Linked DNA regions of Homo sapiens: region 1 is linked to region 2. Evidence: fine-mapped expression QTL. A gene starts in region 2. The other region holds a variant in brackets. All regions are shown on one strand. Distances are between the middles of the regions.

The links. PIP is the estimated chance that this variant, and not a neighbour inherited with it, causes the effect.
Region 1: its variant is the best candidate, but not a certain one, in a credible set for the expression of SOX30 in prefrontal cortex (BrainSeq, PIP 0.52).

What each region holds. Positions count from the first base shown.
Region 1 is chr5:157,673,771-157,676,676 of GRCh38, forward strand. It overlaps C5orf52 (chromosome 5 open reading frame 52), which reads left to right. Exons shown (of 3, transcript NM_001145132.2): 2 at 1,322-1,430. Among named protein-coding and RNA genes, the nearest start is that of C5orf52, 3.7 kb to the left of the region's middle. The variant G/A (reference allele first, on the strand shown) is at 1,285.
Region 2 is chr5:157,651,331-157,654,160 of GRCh38, forward strand. SOX30 (SRY-box transcription factor 30) reads right to left here and starts at 1,108. Exons shown (of 5, transcript NM_178424.2): 1 at 1-1,108. The coding sequence starts at 748. LOC105377675 (a long non-coding RNA gene) reads left to right here and starts at 476. Exons shown (of 3, transcript XR_941127.3): 1 at 476-1,002. RefSeq lists an enhancer at 751-1,045.

The DNA.
Region 1 (2,906 bases), 22 kb after region 2:
AGTAGCTGGGATTACAGGCGCTCACCACCACGCCCAGCTAATTTTTGTATTTTTAGCAGAGATGGGGTTTCACCATCTTTGCCAGGCTGTTCTGGAACTCCTGACTTCCAAGTGATTCGCCTGCTTCAGCCTCCCAAAGTGCTGGGACTACAGGCGTGAGCCAACTTGCCCGGTCCTGAACAATTATTTTTAAATGGACAAAACCATTTAAAGATATATGTTCATAAGACTACTTCGTGGTGTAACCAAATTATCAAAAAGTGAAAACTCAGTGCCTGTAAGTGTATCCACTTTTCACCATTTTCTCATTTTGACCAAATTGTTGTATTTTCACCTGGAGTACTTGGCTCCATTCTACCCCACCCCACCCCATCTTTCACCTCTCACCTTTCAGAGTCTCCTAAAACCCCTAGCCACCCCATACCTCCTTCACTTTTCTAAACTCCCCAAACTTTCTTCCAGAATTTCCCTGTTAACCAGCCTAACACCTGTCCAAGCTTTTCATTTGCATTTCTCCCTGCTCTGATTTATACTCCCCCAACCCCCCACCTCCCAGATCCCCTTGAAGCATATGCTCTAGAGCAAGTGCCCCCCAAGCTAAACACCTCCCAGATTCATCCTTCTGAATCCTACCCTACAACTTTACTCCTCTCCTCTAAGACTCCTCTCACCATTTCATCCTTAAGAAGGATCATCAAGATGACTGCTTTTGGCTGGGTGGGCGTGGTGGCACTTGCCTGTAATCCCAGCACTTTGGGAGGCTGAGGTGGGTGTATCTCTTGAGGTCAGGAGTTTGAACCCAGCCTGTCCAACATGGTGAAACCCCGTCTCTACTAAAAGTACAAAAATTAGCCAGGCATGGTGGCGAGTGCCTGTAGTGCCAGCTACTCAGGAGGCCGAGGCAGGAGAATTGCTTGAACTGGAGGTGGAGTTTGCAGTAAGCCAAGATTGCACCACCACACTCCAGCCTGGGAGACAGAGTGAAACTCCGCCTCAAAAAAACAAAAAACACAAAAAGGGTGACTGCTTCTGAGGATGGTTCTGAGTTCCTGATAACCCTTCTCTTAAGGACTGCACTAGGCCATTTTACATCCTCAGAATGGCTTTTCTTCTGGGTAACCATGAAATACCCCTTTAGCATACCTTTTCCACAACAAGAAACTGTGGTTACTCCCCTGTTCTTTTGAAAATTATGACAGAGCTGCACTTGTCCCAAGAAACCCGGGGAAGCCTCAGCCACTCCCTCAGGACCCCATCAAATGTGCTCTGGCCCAGGCCCCAACC[G/A]TCTGTAACCTGTGCCACCTTTCCCTCCCTGCTCCAGCTTAATGAATTCCAGTGAAGCAGCGATGAAAAAAACTTTACCCAAGAGCCATTTATCTCGGGTGATTATTCATGATAACCGCATCACACAACGAATCTATGAGATGGAGGTAAAGTAGCCACAAGCTTTTGCATTAGAGGGTGTTAGTGGCTTGACCCATATTCATTTCATTCTCCCTATATGCTGGGATATCATAGAGGTGATAGGGAGTCATCAAGGTGCTCTAAGGCAGGCCCCATTTTACAGAGGAGGCAATTGATACTCGGGGTTACTGACTTGCGCAAGGTGTCGCACCTGTTCCTGGGCTAAGGGAGCCAGAGAGAAAGACTCCATGTCTCTTGGGTCTTTTTTTCTGAAAGCACATTATCTCTCTATTTAGGGAATCCATGAATGGATTCTTATTTTCTCCCATACAAAGTCTTGGGTCCTAGGCCACACGCAGTGGCTCATACCTCTAATCCCAGCACTTTGGGAGGCTGAGGCAGGAGGATCACTTGAGGTCAGGAATTCGAGACCAGCCTGGCCAATATGGTGAAATCCTGTCTCTACTAAAAATACAAAAATTAGCCAGGTGTGGTGGCAGCCAGGTGTGTGGCAACAGAGCAAGACTCCATCTCAAAAAACAAACAAACAAAAAAACAGAAAACCAAAGTCTTGGGTCCTAGAGTTTGAATGGGCCTCAACACCATCTTGTCAATTTTTTCCTTTGGGGATTATCCCCATTTTCCAGATGAGAGCTGAGGCTCTTCTCCCACTTTTTGCTATGGACAGGTAGAGTTTCACCTGCTTACTCGAAATCCTGAGTGCTGTCACCCCACTGTTCCCATAGACCCTGATTGATGGATTCATTAAACCTGTCCTTAGGGCCTGCTTGGGACAGGTACTGTGTTGGGCGCTAGGAAGAGACAAGTGAACAAGATGGACTCCAGAAACACACTCATTCTTTCAAGCAGAGCAGGGTGCCCAGGGTTGAGCTGCTGCCACCTTCTTTTCTTTTTTGAGACAGAATTTCATTCCTGTTGTCCAGGCTGGAGTGCAGTGGCGCTATCTCAACTCACTGCAACCTCTACCTCCCGGGTTAAGCAATTCTCCTGCCTCACCCTCCCAAGTAGCTGGAATTACAGGCATGCACCACTACGCCCGTCTAATTTTTGTTTTATTAGTAGAGACGGGGTTTCACCATGTTGGCCAGGCTGGTCTCAAACTCCTGACCTCAGGTGATCCACCCACCTCAGACTCCCAAAGTGCTGGGATTACAGGAGTGAGCCACCACGCACAGCTGCTGCCTGCTTCTTGACTCTTTTGAGCTTCCTTCCATGTTCCAGGGTCAAGTCTGGATGGGCCCACAAAATTCTAACATTAAAAACAATTGGAGATCCTTAAGAGATGGTGCCAGATCCTCTTGAAGGTCACAAACACCAAAAGAAGAGTAGGGACCCGGGCATTTCTCTTTCTGCTACACTTCCATGGGTGTGGTGTAGTGGAAATAGATGGGCAAGCCAGCTTTGTGTGACCCTGTGTGAATTACACTTCCTCCAGACTCTGCTTTCTCATTTGTAAAATAGGATCTATTAAGATCCTCTCA
Region 2 (2,830 bases):
CACCGGACGTTGGGGCCAAGATGACCTCCGCGCTGCCATGAACCAGGCCATTGGACGCGGGCTCCGCGCCGAGCCTGCAGTCCTCGAGGAGTCTCTCGGGTTCCTCCGTTTTGATCACACCTTCTCGGATGGCTGCCGGGCTTTTGCCTGCCCCGCCTTGCATCGAGTCTCTCATGACCTCCTCCGCCTCCAGCTTGCCCTTCTCGTCCCCTCGGAAGTAGCCGAGGGCCGGCCCGGGGCCTTCCAACTTGACCACCCTGGAGGCTCTAGGACCGGTTTCGACGGCCCCTCGAGGCCCCACTGACTGATCCAGGCTGGGCCCCAGCTTCTGCTTCTTGGCCTTGACATGCAGCGCCAGGGGCTGCACCGGGTGCAACTCGGGCCTGGAGGTGGCGCCGTCTGACGCTGTCGGCGGCTGCAGGAGCCGCAGGTCGGGCCTGAACTGCAACAGCCGCGCCTGCGCGGACGAGGCAGCGGCTTCCTCGTTCTGGGCCTGAGGCTGTGGTAGCAGCAACACCTGCTCTGGCTTCACCTGCAGCAGCCGCCGCACCGCGGGCTGTAAGCCGGACGCCACTGCCTCCCCGCACGACGAGGCCAAGGTCGCACTGGCTGCCGCGCTCAGTGTGGGAGACGACGGAGGGGGCTCCATGGCTGCTGCCCAAAAGGAGGTGCCCTCGACCGGCAGCGGGGGCGGAGCGGGACGCAACGGGCGCGGCTGAGGCGGCGGCTCGGGTCTGGCTCTCTCCATGGGGGAGGGGGACGCCCCGGCCAGGATTGTGAGCTCAGCCGTTTGTTGGCGACCTTCCCCCTCCCCCTTTCGGTTAAGAGCCTTGCAAGGCCTTTGCTACCCAGAACCCTACGCGGTTCAAAACGCAGCTGTCTGTCTGGGCCTCACCCAATCACAACGACCGATACCCGTGGACGGCCAATCACAGGCGGGTTTTCCGGCTCTTCCTGGTCCCTACTCTCGCCTCGTGCTGAGTCCTCGAATCACCTGCCATGGTAGGAGCCGCCGCACTTGTTGCACATTTTCGTTCTGACTCTCTTGTGGAGTTCTCTTACAGCCGTTGTCTTTAGTCATCCCTCCCCCACCCGGAGCTGCGACAATGGCGTTGCCCAGGAAACGTTGCGCTTCCAGGCCGCTGACATCCAGGGAATGAAGTCTTGCGTCACAAGGGGAGCGACGGCCTTGTGCACGCGCTCTGTGCGGCCTGAGTAATCTGTCGGCCCTGAGTACCACCAGGGCTTTTGAATCTTTGCCAAGGGAGAATGGGGAAGATTTTGCAACTTATCAATAACCTATTAGCTAATGTTGCTGGGGAGGATCTTCGACTTTGTGTGATTATTGTGCTAAAGTTTCAATTAATCACCAGGCCCTGTGGCCCTACTTCCAAAATACTATACATCCCAAATTCATCCACTGTTTTGTGTCTCTACCTGCCATTATCCTGTTCCAGGCTCCCAGCATCTTTCACTGGGATACTGCCGTAACCCTGTAAATAGTCTCCCTGCTTGTCACCCTTGCCCCACTACACTCCAGCTGCCAGTGATCTTTCGAAAACGCAAATCTAAGGTTGTCACACTTTTCCTAAACTTTCCATGGCTCCCCACTGATAATGTAATGAAAGTCTAAAATTCTTAGCAAAGCCTTAAAAATCCCCCAGTGGCTTGGGATCTAACCTCCTACTACTGCTACTATTAGATTGGTGCAAAAGTAATTGTGGTTTTTGCCATTAAATAGTTATTGAGTCTTTGGGTTTCAGCCACATTGGCCCCATCATCATTCTCTTTCTACTGCAGGGTGTTTAAACATGCTCAGCATGCTACTCTTTCCTTTGTGTCTCCTTAATTCCTCCTGCACATTTTTCATATTGCAGCTCAACTGGGACTTCTTCAGAGAAGCTTTTACTGACTCTGAAAATCAGATAAAATCTTGGTCTACTTATACCTCTATCACTTGGTTTGCTTACCACAATTTGTAATTAGAATTTTCATGTGATGATTCCACTGCCTCTCCCACTTTAGACTATAAAGTCCTTGAAGGCAGAACAGTTTGTGTTTTGCCCATCACTGAATCCACAATGCAGACCATTGAGCCTGGCATATAGTACTCAATAAATACTTGTTGAATAAATAAATGAATAGCGACTGTGATAGGGTAATAATAAAATAGTAATAATCACTACCTGTGTTAAGGGCTTACTCTTATGCTAGACACTGTTCCAAATCCTTTCCATGTTTATGTTTCTCCTTTTAGTAGGATTGTGTTTATTTCCATTAAACATCACCAAGAAAAACAAAAAGAAATCCTGTATTAACATTTGCTGCATTTCTAAATGACATTCTGGCCAAAAACTATAGTTTATCTTGACGTAGATGATTTTTGCAATCAAGACAAGTTATCACTCAAAGACCACTCCAATTTATTGTCCAATCCTCTGGTAACAAATGTGGTCAGTAGGAGTTCTTATACCTGGCAGATAGACAAGGGCAATGGTTTTCAAACTTTTATCTCAAGAACTCATTATACCCATAAAAACTATTGAAGATCCTGGGCTGGGCGTGGTGGCTCACTCCTGTAATCCCAGCACTTTGGGAGGCTGAGGCAGGCGGATCACTTGAGGTCAGGAGTTCGAGACCAGCCTGGCCAACATGGTGGAACCTCGTCTCTACTAAAAATAAAAAATTAGTTGGGCATGGTGGCACATGCCTGTAATTCCAGCTACTCGGGAGGCTGAGGCAGGAGAATCGCTTGAACCTGGGAGGCAGAGGTTGCAGGAGCCGAGATCGTGCCACTGCACTCCAGCCTGGGCAACAGAGCAAGACCCTG